2 separate regions of the Homo sapiens genome follow, and region 1 is linked to region 2. A link means that fine-mapping ties the variant in region 2 to the expression of a gene that starts in the linked region. Tissue or cell type: whole blood. Region 2 holds a variant in brackets; the other region holds the start of a gene. All regions are shown on one strand. Distances are from middle to middle.

Region 1 (8,000 bases), 25 kb after region 2:
GGAAATCATGGCTCTGCCGTCCTGCCTCTCTGTGGCCGTGGGTTCACGTGGCCTCTGCGGTGAGTCTCCAAGTTTCTGCCTAGGCGCCTGTGCGTTTCCTTTCTGTGACGGGATTAGCTTAGACATCCTTGCAAAGCGATCACTTTCAATAAATTGGGAAATTGCTGCTCCAGCAGATGCCTCCTGCGTCTCAGATGATCCTTCCTCCGGCCTCGCCTGGGGTGGCGGCGGCCGACGGGTGACCCTCGGCCCTCTGTGGGCAGCTGCCAGACTCCACCCACTTGCCCACCACAGGGTCCCAGCCCCACGGCCTTCCTCCCGAGAGGCAGACAAAGCTTCTGGAAAAACCTCAAATCTTTAATTTCTCTCTTCGCCTGGTGCAGCCCAGACGTGAGACACCTGAGCTTCAAAAACAAACATGGTAAAAACAGCCCCAGGGCCCGAGAGCCGTTGAGTTAAGTGCGAGTGGGGGAGTCCCCTCTCCAACACCCCTCAAAGTGCATCGGGACTGGCCCCCCAAAGCTGGGCCCATAACACCCTTGATAAATCTACGGGCCGACAGGCGGGAGGGTGGCTGCCCCCAGGGCCCTTGGGGCTAAGGGGACAGCGGTGTGGTTTGGCTTTAGTGCAAAAAGCTGGTTTCTTTAGAGGCACTTTGAGTGGTGGGACCCCTCCCCGACCTGGCGGGGGGGAGGGTTCAGGGTCAGCCCCGCCCCCCCACCCCAAGTAAAAGCAGACCCTGCAGCTGGTGAAAGCCAGCCCCTGGGGCTGTCCTCGGGCTGTTTCAGCCCCGGGCCTGGAGGGGGTGGGGAGGGAGAAGGTGGTAGCTTATGTTCTTGAACGAGCCGGACTTAGTCCAGGAACCGCTGGCAGGCTTTCTTCCAGCGGCAGGCTGTGCACCAGAGGTCCCGGCGCTCCATGCCATACACCTTCCGGCACTTCTTCGCGTCGCCGCGGGGCTTCCTGTGCGGGGGGTCACAGGACATGGGGTGCTGTGAGACCAGGACCCTCCCCACCTGGTGCCAGCCGCAGGCCCTCAGCCCACACGCACCTCAGGGTGACTCCGATCCTGGAGGACAAGGCGGGTGGGCAGGCTCCGACCTCCGTGGGCTGCGGCTCCAGGCGGGCGGGCGTCAGGCAGCCCTACAGGGAGACACAGCCAGGGCTTCACTCCCCTCCAGAGAGCCCTGAGACCCGCCCCAGCTGCCACCCGTGGCCTCACCCACCTGGTAGACACGGTCACTGTGACAGGACTGGGGGTTAGCAACGGTGCTCAGGACAGGGGGCGGGGGCAGGGGCGGGGCAGGCGGCCGCAGGGGACTAGGCAGGGCTGGGGGCTCCAGCAGCTCTGGCAGCTCCAGGCGGGGGAAGGCAGGCGGCATGGAGGCCGTGGGGGACACTGGAGTCAGGCTGGACAGCCCGTCGGTCAGCGTGTCCACACCAACATCCAGCTCTGTGTAGTAGAAGTCCTCCTCACCATCACTCTGCTCAGGCTCTGCCTGCCTCCTGCGGGAGACACAGCCAGCCAGTGGGAGCTGAAGGGGTGGCCTGGCCGGGCCTCACAACCCCAGCCAACCCGCAGGCCCCGCCGCACCCCAGGCCCCGCCGCACCCCAGGTGCACCAGGCGGATGTGTCTCTGCATCGCCGACGCCGTGCTCAGCACCTTCCCGCAGCTCTTCCACAGACACTGGAACATGACCTGGGCCGGGCTCTGCAGCAACAGGGGCCAGGGTCAGGCTCAGCCGCCACACCCGCCCCTCCCTGGGGGCCGCCCCCAAGCTCACCTTCCTTTTTCTCAGGGTGGGCTCCCCAAACAGAAAGTGGGCTGCCTCGGGGGGCAGTGGGGGTGACGGGGTGGACGGAGAGGACTGGTCACTGGCCAGGTCCCATCCCCAGTCTCCACTGTTGCTGCTGCTGCTGTAGCTGCCTGGGGGCCGCACCAGGGCCTCCTTCCAGGGCTCCAGGCCAGGCTCTGTGGGGACACGGGCCCCCCGCCTTAGAACTTCGGGTGGGTCCAGGGAGTCCCTAATCCTGAGCTGCCCCTGTTCACCAAGTCCGGTGAGACTGGTGGGCAGAGCGTCTTGGAGGAGCTGGCCCCAGGGCTTGGGGAGAAACCCCCCCGGCACAGGAAAGGGTTGGCAGACGTGTGTGGCCAGCCGCGTGGAGGTGAGCAGGTCAGGGAGGCCAGAAGGCCTGGGTCCTGCCGCTTTGGCCTCAGTAGGGGGCACTGAGGGTGCGGGAGTCCATTTTAGAAAGGAGTCCCAGGTTTGAGGGCTCTGCTTGCCCCACAGAGGCTGGGTGGCTGTAGGTTCTGAGCCCTGTCCCCACCCACACCCCTAAATGCAGACATCTGAGTCTTACCTGGGCTGAAGGCTGCAACCGGGGCCCCCAGAAGGAGAGGGCTGGTGGACAGGCTTGTAAGGGCAGCGGCAGCCATGACCTCGTCCAGCCGGGCTTTTCCTGGGGTGGCTCTGGAGGAGATGGGGGCGGGGTGCGGGTGACCCAGCCAGAGCTCTGGGCCCCTCCCCTGGTCGGTCCACGTGCAGGCCTGGGCACGCGTGCACACCAGGCTCCCCACTCCCAGCCCTGGGCATGAGGCCTGGCTCCTCCCCCAGCTCAGGTTGCAGAGAGAGCTGAAAGCCACCCGGAGCCGCCAGGAGCAGGGCCAGGGTCTCCTGAAGCCTGAGTTCTCCACATCGCGGGCTTGGCTCCACTGTGGTTCCTTCAGATACTGGGGCTGGGCAGGGGTCTGAAGCCCTGGCAGAGGGGCGGGCCAGGCCCAGGCCTCCCCCCATCACACATTAACCAGGGTTGTGCAACAGCAGCTGTGGGCCTCACGCCAGGCCTGGGAGGTGGGAGTGGCCAGCAGCCGGCAGCAGCCAGGGGGAGACTGGGCTGGAAGCACGGGCAGCTCCCCAGGCCCCAGCGAGCCAGGCCAGGGCCCGCCCCTGCCCTGGCAGCCAGACCGAGGTGTCCGGCCTGGCAGGGGTTGGGAGGTGGCGGTCAGGAGCCCCAGGGATTCCTGGACAGTCGCCCCATGCCGACCGCGCAGCCTCTTCTGCACAGAGACGCACAGCCACCCGCTCCGGGTTCTGAGCTCTAGCCCCGAGGAACTGCGGTGGAGGGAGGTGTAGGGACTCCCAGTCATCGATCATTTCTGCTCAGCTCCTCCAGGGCTGAAGAGCTTGGGGGTGGCTGGTAATTACAAACCTGGGGCCCTGACCTGGCCTCCGTCGGGGCCGGTGTCTCCGCACCCCACCCACCGCCCCTGCGCACACCGAGTCCCGAGGCACCGGGCCTCCCGCTCACCTCTGCGCTGGGACGGGGATGTGCGCCGACGGAGTCCGGGGCCCCGCCGCCGCCCCCGTCCACGTCCGGGGGGCCCCCAGGTCCGAGGCCCGCGGCTCCGACTCCTGCGGCCGCGCGAACTCCAAGCCCGCGAAGCCGCCGCCCACGGAAGAGCCCTGCGGATGGGGAGGGGGCAGACTCAGCGGAGGCGGTGGCCGGGGGAGGGGGGTCCCTCAACCTCCGCCGCGGATCCGCTCGGCGCCCGCCTCGAAAACCGGCTGCGGCCGGTGTGGACGGCGCGGCCCCGCCCCCGGCCCCGCCCCCAGCCCGGCGCGGCGGGAAGGGCTCCCCGGCCGCCCGGCGCAGCCCCGGCGGGACCCACGGACACGCGCGGACCGACGCGGCCGCCCTCCCCGCTGCCCCGCCCCCGGGGGCCCGAAGTTTGGGCAGCACTGACGCCATCTTTGCAGCGAGAGAAACTTGGTCGGCGCCCCCGCCCACCGGCGCCCGGTACCTGCGGCGGCGTGGGCACCGTCACGGGCGCGGCGCGCGGCCCCGGACCCTCCGCGCGCAGCCACGGCGCCTCGGCCCGCAGCGCACTGGGGTCCCGGCCGGCGGCGCGGGGCGGGGGGCGCTCCATGGCCGGCCGGCCGGGCGCCGAGGCTGCAGCGGCGAGGGCTGACTCTCAGGACGCGGCCCCGGGCCGGGCCGGGCTGGCCGGGCCGCCGACCCCCGCCCTGGATCCGGCCGCCGCCCGCGCCGCGCCGCCCGGAGGCTGCCCGGCCCGCCCCGCCCCGCCCCGTCTCGTCCCGCCCCGCCCCGCCCCGTCCCGTCCCGTCCCGGCGCGCGCATTGGCCGCGCGGCGTCCACACCGCAGGCGGGCGGGCCCGGCCGGCCGCGCTCCCGCCGGCCAGCGCTTCGAGGCCCCGCCCCGGGCCCGCCCCCTCCGGGTCGCTCCCGCGCTGGCCTAGGGAGGGAGGCCCGGCCCGGCACAGCTCCGAGGCCTCCGCCCACCTCGCGCGCCCGCGCGCCCCGCCGGGGAGGGCCCGTTCCCCACGGGCGCGCTCGCAGAGCTGCCAGAGCCGGGGAAGGGGCCGCGATTGCTTGGCGGGCTTCCCGGCAGCAGGTTACTCTTTAACGCTCGACTGCCCACCTCCACCACCCCTTATGTAACACCAGGCTGGGTGGCGGAGCCCTCCCGTGGAGTCCAGGGTCCAAGTCCCACCCGGGGGCGGCCACCCTGCCGGCTGCGCTGCCCCCTAGGAGTGGCTGGGACCCCGTGCCCGCACTGACCGAGAGTCTGGCCGGCAGGAGCACCGCCTCGGCTAGGCCCGGGCGCCCCGGGGGCAGCCAGTCCCCCAAGGCCAGAGGGGACAGCTCCAAGCCTTCCAGAGAAGCCCCCCGCCCCAACCCGCCCAGCTTTCAAGAAGAGCAGGCTGCGAGGCTGGCCGCTTTCATCCTGCGCTGGCGCTTTATTTAGACGCGGGCCTTCTCTGGAGCCCGGGGAGGCCGCGGCTGTCAGAGCGGCCAGGACCTCACGGACCTCACGGGCTGGCAGCCCGGGGACCTGGGACTGGCGCTGTCAGCTGTGAGGCGGGGCGGGGCGGGGGACGGGCCTCACTCTGGAGGAAGGAGCACAGGTCCTTGAGTGTTCAGGGCAGGGAGGCAGGGAGGGGTCTCCAGCCCCTCCCTAGGCTGGGGCAGCTGGAAGCAGGGGGCGTCCCAGCCCCGCACGTGCTGCTCCTGCCAGCAGGGTCCCCCAGCTCCCGGATGCTCTCATACACGTTTTCCAGGGGGCCGCTGTCCACATCCAGGGCCCTGAGCGGGAGGGTCTGGTAGGCCAGGTCACCCGCCAGGGCCAGAATCGCTCCCTGGCCCTTGGGGTCCAGCGGGTCTGTGGTGGGTCCTGGGTCCCTCCTTTTAGGCTTGCAGACCCTGGAGTACAGGACGTCCACCTGGAGACAGGAAGCCAACCCGAGGAGGGGTCAGCACCATCCAACCTGCTGAGGATCTGCCGGCCCCACCCACAGCGCCCTACCCTGGCCCACGTTACCTGAGCGGCCGGGGTCACCTCAGTCTTCCCCTGCTGTGGCTCTTGGGGACTGCGATGGGTCCCTTTGCGCTTCTGGACGCGGGCATACTCGGCCACCACAGGGCTGGCCGCCAGGCTGACCCCGGGAAGGGCCGCCAGCCCCACGTTGGAATAGGTGGCCTCGAGGCCAGCGCACCCTGCGGTGGCTGCAGCTGCCGGCAGAGCCCGGGGCAGCTCCTGGTGTGGGAAGGCAGAGGGGGCTGCCTGCGGTCCGGTGATGTCCCTGGACACCTCCAGCCAGTGTGGGCGCAGGAGATCCATGCTGGCAGGCCGCAGGGCTGGGGGTGGGGTCAGGGCAGAGTTCACTCCGGGCAGGGGGCAGGAGCGGGTCTGGCCCAGGGGTTGGCACGCGCTGCACAGTAAGCCCCGCCCGGCCGCCCCCGCCCCGCCCTCTGCTCACCCCTGCTGCTGCGCGGGCCCCGGTGCAGCTCGTGCAGTCTGGTGTCCGACTTGCTGAGGGAGCAGAGGTGGGTCCGCCTCAGTAGGGACTGGGGGCGAGGAAGGCTGGTCGGTGCCCTGCGGACCCCACCCTGGTCCCCGGGACAGCCTGGCACTCACCGCTTCCGCCGCCGTCGCACTGCCCTGCAGCCTCGCCCGCTGCCTCCGCGCCCTCTTCCTGGGGGCTACAGCGTCCTCGGGCCTTGGGGGTAGAGGTGGGGGGCGGGGGGCGGGGTCGTCAGCCTCGGGTCCAAGGCCCGGTGCAGGCGCGCGTGCCGAGCTGGGTGCGCGGACCTGCCTCCAGCCCCTTCCCGCGCTGGGCTGTGAATGGCAGCCGCAGCGAGGCCCCAGACAGAACGCGGCTGAGGGACCTACCTGCGGCAGGCTGTGCACAGCGCCCACAGCGAGAGGAGCAGGGCGCAGCACCCTAGAACCCAGAGGGCAGGAGGGGCCCAGGACACTGGCAGCCCCATCCTGTGAAGCCGAGGCCCTGGGGACAGAAGAAAGGGGCGCTGGGGGCTGGCCAAGGGGACCTGGCGCCACCTGGCAGCCCCAAATCTGCACCTCCCGCGGCTGCGGGGCTCCTGCGTCTCCCGTTCCAGCTCTGACTCAGCACAGGAAGCCCCAAGGCCTGGCAGTCCCTCCCTCCCAGAGGTGCCCACCTTCTGGCGGGGGCTCCCGGTGAGGTGAACTAGGGCTGCTCTGCCTGGCCCCTCCGTGTCCCTGCGGGTGACCACGGTAACACCCAGCACGGCCGTGAGGAGGGGCAAGACAGCTGTGGCCACCATAGCCCAGATAGTAACCAGCATCGGGGGAGCCCCTGGGTGTGCGCCACAGGCCACAGACTCCACCTGCAGCCACCCTCTGCCCAGACATGGTCTCCTGTGTCAGGTAGTGCCCCCAAGCCGCTCGCTGCGGAGCCCAGAACTGGGAAGAGCTGGAGGCTGGTCAGCAGGAGGGACCCTGCACCCGGAGGAGCTGGAGGCTGGGTCAGCAGGCAGCAGCAGCTGCTGGGGGTGCTGATGCCCCCACCCCACTTCTCTCTGGCTCTTCTTGTCTGCCAGTGTCTCTGCCAGAGAGGATCTGTCCCCTTCTTGGGGATCTTAGCAGAACTTCTCGGGGTGGGGGATGCCTTACAAACAGCACAGTCCAGCAGCAGAGACAGAAGCTGGGGGGTGAGGGGTGGTCTCTGGAGTTTGGGGCCAGTCTGCTCAGACCCAGGGAGTGGGCTTCAGCCTGGCTGACTGACCCAGCTGCAGCCACATCCCAAGGCCTCCCAGACCCCAGCTGCCCCCCAGGAGGGCACTTACCAAGCCCACGGCCAGGGGTCCTCAGCTCTGTCTGGGGCAGGCCAGGAAGGTCTTTGTGCAGCCCTCGGCTGAGCTCCCCACCTCATCACTTCCTGCTCCTGTCGCCAAGCGCCTCCCCTGAGCCTCCCACCCTGGGCAGCAGCCACCACCGCAGCCTCACCCACCTGCTGCGCCCCGCCCGAAGCCTAGATGAAACGTGTGCGCCTCTAGCCCGCACTGTTCTGACAGCCTAACTCACAACCCCTCCACACACGAAGACGTGAGCAGAGCTGGCACAGAACCCCCAAACCCACAGGGCCAGGTCCGCCTGCCTCACCAAGAGTGCCCCACGTGGTGGGCCACAGTCCTCTCCCGCCCGTCTCGCCCGCTGGAGCAGCACTGAGCTCCACCCATCTGTGGGTGTCAGGCAGCCTGGCGGGCACCCTGGCCTCCGATCTGCCTTGGTCAGAGAAGGGTAAGAAGGGAGAATGCCGGCCTCCTAGGCCCCTCCAGCCCAGCCCGTCTCTCACCACAGCCCTGCACAGACCCTTCTCTCCCCAGAGACCCTGCAGCCAGCTGATCTCCACTGAATGACACTGTGATGAAATCACTTTAATGTCCTTGCCAAGGAAATGCCCAAGACACTGGCAGGTGGGCAAGTAAGTGTCCAGATGGGACCCCGCAGCTCTGTCTCCACTCAGCAGTGTCTGCACGCCCCAGGCCAGCAGGCCGGCCCCTCCTCGGGCAACACTGGTCTTCCTGAGGGCAGCCCGTGCTGGGGTCCCACGCTTCGTCCATAGTGCTTGTGGGGTCTCTAGAACTCAGTCATCTTCTTGTGGGTGTCTGCCTTCCTCTGCTCCTGCTGCAGGCCGGCTTCCTGAGCCCGGAGCTG
Region 2 (8,000 bases):
CTCACAGAGCCCTGGTGGAAGCCGTTCCACTGCCCCAGCCCGAGCCGCGCAGAGCCCTGGTGGAAGGCATTCTCCTTCCTGTGCCTGAAGTCGCGGAGTCTTTTCTATAAAGAAAGGGCCATGGGGTGTGTACCTCCCTGGAGAAAAAAAAATTCTTTAACAAGAGCTCAACCACTTTTTTTTTTTTTCTTTTGAGACAGAGTCTGGCTTTGTCACCCAGGCTGGAGTGCAGTGGTGCGATCTTAGCTCACTGCAACCTCCACCTTCGGGGTTCAAGAGATTCTCCTGCCTCAGCCTCCCAAGTAGCTGGGATTACAGGTTAGGGTATCCCGTTGGGCACACCACCACGCCTGGCTAATTTTTGTGTTTTTAGTAGAGATGAGGTTTCACCATGTTGGCCAGGCTGGTCTTGAACTCCTGACCTCAGGTGATCCGCCTGCCTCGGCCTCCCAAAGTGCTGGGATCACAGGCATGAGCCTCCTTGGTCTCCCAAAGTGCTAGGATGAGCCTCGGTGCCCAGCCTTAACCACACATTTTGGATTTTGAAATTAATTGCTATTCCCACACGAGTCGTTTCTCATTTCTCACAGGATAGTTTTGGTGGCAGGTGTTAATGTTTTGTTAATGCATATATTTTTGAGTGTCTCTTTATTGAGAATTAATTACAGTCTTCCTTTCCAGATGGCTGTTGACAGGCTGTCTTAGTAGTGATTGGACAACATCCCAGGTGAGTGAGGGCAGCAGAGTGTCCACACTAGAAGTCTTGCTGCTTTTATCCCATCCTGACGGTCTGTAACTTGTCTGTCTCTGGTTCCAGATCGACACCTCTCATGGCGTGGAGAGCTGGGCGGAGCAGTCCTCTTCCAGAGTTGGCTCCCGCTGGCATGAGGGTGGGTTTCTGCAGGGCCTGTGGCCTGTCCAGGATGCCTGAGGAGTCTTCTTCCAGCCCAGGCCTGGATGGACTTGCCCAGCCCTGGATGGACTTGCCCAGCCCTGGGGGCAGCCAGTGCCAGGACGGCTTGGCCTCGCCTGGAGCTCCTTGGGCGCTGACAGCTTTACCCTGAGGCCAGCTAAGGAGCTCTGTGAAGCAAGTGACAGCAGCGAAGGCACCTCCCCTGCTGGAAGTGGTTTGGGACAGAACTGCGGGTGCCTCTGGTCTGTGCGCTGGAGCCGGCGTTTGCTTTGACCTCAGTGCTGCGGCCAGAGCTTTGGCGTCCGGGTCCCGGGCTCCAGCTGGGTGCAGCTGCCCAGGCGAGAGAGCTCTCAAGTGTGTGGGAGCAGGAGGGGAACTGGGTGACCGAACAGCCGCGTCGGAGGGGGATATCTGCGGAGAGCTGTGACTGGGAGCCGGTGTGTGCCTTTCTGTGGTCATTTCTCGAGTCCTCTGCCGGCTGCTGCCAGGTGAAGGCATCTCCATGCCCAGCCGGTGGGCAGCTGGGGCGGGTGGACCTCCAGCTTCTGCCCGACGGGGTTCAGATGACCGAGATCCTACGGGATTGCCAATGTGTGGGGACGGGGGGCTTTCAGGGGCGGGAAAACATGTCCCCATCCGTGGGAAGTGGAGCCACGTGGCTCCGACCCAGCAACTTTCTAGGGAGATCGAAAGACAAAGCCTGCCACGGCGTCCTTGGCGGTGTGTGCCTGGCATGTGCGCGGCGCTCCACGTGTCGGCGTGGAATTACGGGAATGTGCTGCTTTTCAGAAAGAGCGCCCCGCGGTGCCCTTGCCCGTCCTCGTCGGACGTGTTAGGTTCAATGTCAGCTTTCTATTCAGAGCAGGTGGTTGTGGACTTGGTGGGCTCCAGGGACCCAGAGCAGCAGGTGGGCTCAGGAGGGGGATAGGCATCCCCCATTCCAGATTCTGGAATACCCAGAAGCACCATCTGGCAGGGAAGGTGGCGTGTCGGGGGAGCCCGCTCCCAGGCCAGAGACGCGTCCCACCATCTGCCCAACAGCCCATCCCCTTTCCGGACGGTCCCCATCTCCACTGCAGCTGGAACCATCTGCTGGAGCCTCCCCTGGTTCCTCAAATCTTTATGTTCCTTTATGTTCCTGAGATGAGTTTCTGAAGATGGAGAAAAGTGGGATTTCTAGTGAGGTTTGGGGCATTTTACCAAAGGTGACCGCGCTCTGCTGGCATCTGTGAGGGTCGGGAGAGCAGTCCACACAGGCCGTGCCTTCTGAGCTGCCAGACGCCTCTTTATGCAAATGCCTGTTGGAGTTTTAATATCAGTTGTAGAGAAAATGAAGCTTTTTTTTTTTTTTTGGTCAAAATGGGATCTCTTGGCCAGGTGCAGTGGCTCATGCCTGTGATCCCAGCACTTTGGGAGGCCAAGGTGGGCGGATCACCTGAGGTCGGGAGTTTTAGACCAGCCTGGCCAACATGGCGAAATCGTATCTCTACTAAAAATAGAAAAATTAGCTGGGCGTGGTGGCGGGCGCCTGTAATCCCAGCTATTTGAGAGGCTGAGGCAGGAGAATCACTTGAACCCGGGAGGCGGAAGTTGCAGTGAGCAGAGATCATGCCATTGCACTCCAGCCTGGGCAACGAGAGCGAAACTCCCTCTCAAAAAAAAAAAAAAAAAAAAAAAAAAAGGATCTCTCAGCTGTTGGGCCTGAGATGATATGTCTCAACCTGGGCACCATGACAGAAGAAACTTGTGGCATCTGACTGTGAGATTAGTCCACGCCTGGGCTCTGCGTTCATGGGCAGGGCACACCCTAGTGCTGTTGAAGCAGGTACATCAGAGGCCGCATGACAGCTTTGCCTTTTGCTCTCCAGGGTGGGCAGCAGGTGGGCCCAGCGGGGAGAGAGTTGTCTTGGGGGTTGATAAGGAGGCCTGGTTGTAGAGATTCTCTCCGTACCATTTTGCTGAAAGAGTTTGGTTAACTTTTTGAAAACAATTTAAAAATTGTAGACATGTGCCATAGAACCTAAAAAAATATGCTCGTGGCAGATAGTAAAATGATAAGGGCTCTAAGAACATTTTTAGAATAGATAGCAGTATGACTTTATCCCTACTTCTAACATTCTTTCCCCTGAAACTACACAGACATTCATTCAGCATATGAAGTGGGTGCAATGGCTCATGCCTGTAATCCCAGTACTTTGGGAGGTTGTGGCGGGAGGATTGCTTAAGCCTGAGAGTTCAAGACCAGCCTGGGCAACATAGGGAGACCTTGTCTCTACAGAAAAAGTTTAAAATTAGCTGAGCGTGGTGCTGTGCACGTGTGGTCCCAGGTACTCGGCAGGCCGAGGAGGGAGGATCGCTTGGGCACAGCAGGTCGAGGCTGCAGTGAGCCATGATTACACCACTGCACTCCAGCTGGGCCACAGAGTGAGACCCTGTATCAAAAAAGAAAAGAAACGCCCACACATAACCTACCCGGGAAGGGGGCCAGTGCAGGTGGGACAACGCTGTGATCCTTGAGAGAAGAGAGAACACAGATGAGCTGCCCTTCACCCCAGTGGTGTTGCTGGCATATTTCCCAAACCCTGGAGCAGGAAGTGGACCCTGAGCGGACGGCAGTGTACAGATAGAGATTGTCCTTCGGGGCAGCCAGAGGAGCCGGGACTTGAGGGGCAAAATCCCAAGAAGCAAGAAACAAAGAGGAGGACCCCAGCTTCTGCATACAACTGCCCCCCACCCCAAGCCTCTAAGCCCCACACACACACACACGCACACACACACACAACCACACATACACATGCACACATGCACACGCACACATGCACATACAAACATACACACACACGCACGCACACACACACAAGAATCACTTGAACCTGGGAGGTGGAGGTTGCAGTGAGCCGAGACCGCGCCATTGCACTCCAGCCTGGGTGAGAGAGCAAGACTCCGTCTCAAAAGAAAAACAAAAAAAAATCTTAAAAGCAGCCAGAGGGCCAGGTGCAGTGGCTCACACCTGTAATCCCAGCACTATGGGAGGCCGAGGTGGGCAGATCACCTGAGGTCAGGAGTTCGAGACCAGCCTCAACATGGAGAAACCCCATCTCTACTAAAAATACAAAATTAGCCGGGTGTGGTGGCACACACCTGTAATCCCAGCTACTCGGGAGGCTGAGGCAGGAGAACTGTTTGAACCTGGGAGGTGGAGGATGCGGTGAGCTGAGATCGAGCCATTGCACTCCAGCATGGGCAACAAGAGCGAAACTCCGTCTCAAAAAAAAAAAAAACAGAGAAAAAATGCTTAACATTCAGAAGAACAACAGTGATGGCTGACTTTCCCAGAAACTACAGAAGCTAGAAGACAATGAATGACGTCTTTGAAGTACTGGAAAGCAAAAGATGCCAACCTGGAACTCTATACCCAACAAAAATATTCATCACAATTTTTTTTTTTTTTGAGACAGGGCCTCGCTCAGTCACCTAGGCTGGAGTGCAATGGTGCGATCTCTGCTCACTGCAACCTCTGCCTCCCGAGTTCAAGTGATTCTCCTGCCTCAGCCTCCCCAGTAGCTGGGATTACAGGCGTGAGCCACCATGCCCAGCTGATTTTTTGTATTTTTAGTAGAGACGGTTTCACCATGTTGGCCAGGCTGGTCTGGAACCCCTGGCCTCAAGTGATCCACCCATCTTGGCCTCACAAAGTGCTGGGATCACAGGCATGAGCCACCGTGCTTGGCCTATAAATTTTTTTTTTTAATTAGCTGGGTGTAATGGCTCATGCCTGTAGTTCCAGCCACTTGGGAGGCTGAGGTGGGAGGATCGCTTGAGCCCAGGAGGTCGAGGCTGGTGTGAGTTGTGGCTGCACTGCTGCACTCCAGCCTGGATGACAGAGCAAGGCCGTCTCTTATTTAAAAAAAAAAGAAAAAG[A/G]AAAAAGAAAGCACCAGATAAGGCAACTGTGTGAGTAATAGAAAATAATCTTGATTGTTTAAAGCAACAATTATAATTTGGGGGATTTTTAAACCTAAATAGAAGCAAAACATATGACACTATTAGCATGTGGGGTGGATGAGAGTTAACTGTCGTGTGGTTCTGACTCTTTATAGTCACAGGAATGATGACTGAAAATAGGAAAAGTGGTGTGATTCAAAGGCTCAATGAGGAGAAGAAATGGAATAATTCTTGATACAGTTTGGATCTCTGTCCCCACCCAAATCTCATGTTGAACTGTGATCCGCAATACTGGACGTGGTGCCTGGTGGGACCTTCCATGGATGATTTAGCTCCCTCCCCTTAGTGCTGTCCTCATGATAGTGAGGTCTCACAAGATCCGGTCGATTAAAAGCGTGTGGCACCTCCCCCATGACCCTCCGTCTTGCTCCTGCTCCTGTCCTGTGAAACGCTCGCTCCCTCTTCGACTTCTGCCATGATTGGAAGCTCCCTAAGGTCTCCCCAGAAGCTGATGCCACCATGCTTCCTGTAGAGCCTGCAGAACCGTGAGCCAATCAAACCTCTTTTCTCATAAATTATCCAGTTGCAGGTATTTCTTTATAGCAGTGCAAGAATGGCCCGATACAATACGTGATTAATTTGAAAGAAGGCAAGAAAGGAGGAATAAGAACAAAAAGCATAAAGGACAAATAAAAAACAAGATGATAGCCTTACACCAGCCACATCAATAATTACATTATTAAAAATGAACAAAACACATAGCCTGTTTTTAAAAACTATTTATTGGCTGGGTACAGTGGCTCACACCTGTAATCCCAGCAATTTGGGAGGCTAAGGTGGGAGGATCACTTGGGGCCAAGAGTTTGAGACCTGCCTGGGCAACTTAGCAAGACCCCATCTCTAAAAGAATTAAATAATTAGCTGGGTTTGGTGGTGCTCACCAGTGATTCAAGCTACTTGGGAGGCTGAGGCAGGAGATGACTTGAGCCCAAAAGTTTGAGGTTACCATGTGCTATGATTGTGCCACTGTACTCCAGCGTGGGTAACGGAGCAACACCCTATCTCTACAAAAGAAAAAAAGAAAAGAAAAAGATGAATCAAGCAAACACTAACCAAAAAGAAAGTCAGTATAGCAATCTTAATATCAAAGTAAACTTTGAGAAGTATTACTCAAGAGGGACTGGCATAATGATAATTAGTCAATTCAGTAGTAAATATAACAATCCTAATGCATATTGCTCCTAACAGCTCAGTTGGTTTTTTTTTTGTTTGTTTGTTTGTTTGTTTGTTTTTTGAGAGAAGTCTCACTGTTGCCCAGGCTGGAGTGCAGTGGCGCGATCTCGGCTCACTGCAACCTCTGTCTCCCAGGTTCAAGCAATTATCCTGCCTCAGCCTCCCAAGTAGCTGGCAGTACAGGCGCGTGCCACCACCCTGGCTCATTTTTTGTGTATTTTTAGTAGAGACAGGATTTCACCATGTTGGCCAAGATGGTCTCGATCTCCTGACCTCGTGATCCACCCACCTCGGCCTCCCAAAGTGCTGGGATTACAGGTGTGAGCTACTGTGCCCGGCAACAGCTCAGTTTTAAAATACATGAGGTAAAAGCTGGCAGAACTAAAAAAAGAGATAACTTCACAATTACAATTGGGGGTTTTAAAACACTTATCTCAGTAATTGATAGAACAGCAAACAAAATCTCAGTAAGGATAGAGAATATTTGAACACAGTTTTCAAATGTTAAATTCACCTTGAATTCCTGGAAATAAACACATCTGGTCACAAGCTGCTATTCTTTTTCTGTATTATTGGATTCAGTTAGCTAATGTTTGGTTTGAGTCTTGCATCTGTGTTCATAGAGATACTGGCTGTAACAGCACAATTAGCCCAGTTTGAACGTTACACCAAAAGTGCAGGATATTCCAAATGGACAGGAAACATTTACCAAAATAGACCAACCAGGGCCATAATTCAGGTTCAACAAATATCAAAGGATTGAAATCAGAGAGTATATTCTCTGACCTTAGCAAACTGGAATTAGAAATCAGTAACAAGAAGACACTAGAATATCCCCAAATGCTTGCAAATCAAATAGTATACGTTTACACAACCCTCAAGTCAAAGAATAAATCCCTATGGAAATGATAAACTTTTTTTTTTTTTTTTGAGGCAGAGTCTCGCTCTGTCACCCAGGCTGGAGTGCAGTGGTGCGATGTCTGCTCACTGCAACCTCTGCCTCCGGGGTTCAAGTGATTCTCCTGCTGCAGCCTCCCGAGTAGCTGGGATTACAGGCACCGGCCACCACGCCTGGATAATTTTTGTATTTTTAGTAGAGACAGAGTTCCACTATATTGGCCAGGCTGGTCTCGAACTCCTGACCTTGTGATCCACCTGCCTCGGACTCCCAAACTGCTGGGATTACAGGTGTGAGCCACCGTGCCTGGCCAAAATATTTTTAACTGAATGATAATGAAAAAATGCTGTATCAAAACTTTTAGGCCCACATCTAAAGCAATATTTAAGGGAAACTTACAGCTCTAGTTATATATTAGGACAGAAGAAAGGTTCTAAATTTCTTTGTCAAGAAGAAAAAGCATAGCAAATTAAGCCCAAAGAAAGTAACAGAAGGGAAATAAAGAATAGATATCAGGGTGAGTGTGGTGGCTCATGCCTGTAATCCCAGCACTTTGGGAGGCTGAAGTGCGTCAATCACTTGAGGTCAGGAGTTCGAGACCAGTCTGGTCAACATGGTGAAACCCTGTCTCTACTAAAAATACAAAAATTAGCCGGGTATGGTGGTGGGTGCCTGTAATCCCAGCTACTCGGGAGGCTGAGGCAGGAGAATTGCTTGAACCTGGGAGGCGGAGGTTGCAGCGAGCCGAGATCATGGCACCACACACCAGCTTGGATGTCAGAACGAGACTCCATCTGAAAAAAAAAAAAAAAAAGAGCTATCAATGAAGTAGAAAGCAGGCATACAAAAATCAACAGTGTAGCTGGCATGGTGGTGCACACCTGTAATCCCAGCACTTCGGGAGGTTAAGTCAGAAGGCTCGCTTGAGGCCAAGGAGTTTAAGGTTACAGTGAGCTATGATTGCACTGCTGCATTCCAGCCTGGGCAAACCCCAAAACCGAAAGTGAACAATGC

What was found. PIP is the estimated chance that this variant, and not a neighbour inherited with it, causes the effect.
Region 1: it holds the start of SLC2A4RG, and the variant in region 2 is fine-mapped to the expression of SLC2A4RG in whole blood (TOPMed, PIP 0.94).

Annotation. Positions count from the first base shown.
Region 1 is chr20:63,735,842-63,743,841 of GRCh38, reverse strand. It overlaps SLC2A4RG (SLC2A4 regulator), which reads right to left and starts at 4,066. Exons shown (of 8, transcript NM_020062.4): 1 at 3,804-4,066; 2 at 3,311-3,465; 3 at 2,363-2,472; 4 at 1,786-1,973; 5 at 1,612-1,712; 6 at 1,227-1,506; 7 at 1,052-1,143; 8 at 1-963. The coding sequence starts at 3,929. The coding sequence ends at 852. ZGPAT (zinc finger CCCH-type and G-patch domain containing) reads right to left here. Exons shown (of 7, transcript NM_181485.3): 7 at 7,700-8,000. The coding sequence ends at 7,923. It overlaps LIME1 (Lck interacting transmembrane adaptor 1), which reads right to left and starts at 7,178. Exons shown (of 6, transcript NM_017806.4): 1 at 7,130-7,178; 2 at 6,195-6,309; 3 at 5,940-6,021; 4 at 5,782-5,869; 5 at 5,343-5,659; 6 at 4,739-5,244. The coding sequence starts at 6,292. The coding sequence ends at 4,942. ZBTB46 (zinc finger and BTB domain containing 46) reads left to right here. Exons shown (of 5, transcript NM_001369741.1): 5 at 1-172. It also overlaps ZBTB46-AS2. RefSeq lists silencers at 2,949-3,648, 3,659-3,808, 4,059-4,558, 5,563-5,622, 5,703-5,852 and 1 more and enhancers at 5,283-5,877, 6,077-6,993, 7,573-7,752.
Region 2 is chr20:63,760,800-63,768,799 of GRCh38, reverse strand. All of the region lies in intron 3 of ZBTB46 (zinc finger and BTB domain containing 46), which reads left to right. Among named protein-coding and RNA genes, the nearest start is that of ZBTB46-AS2, 21 kb to the right of the region's middle. The variant A/G (reference allele first, on the strand shown) is at 4,835.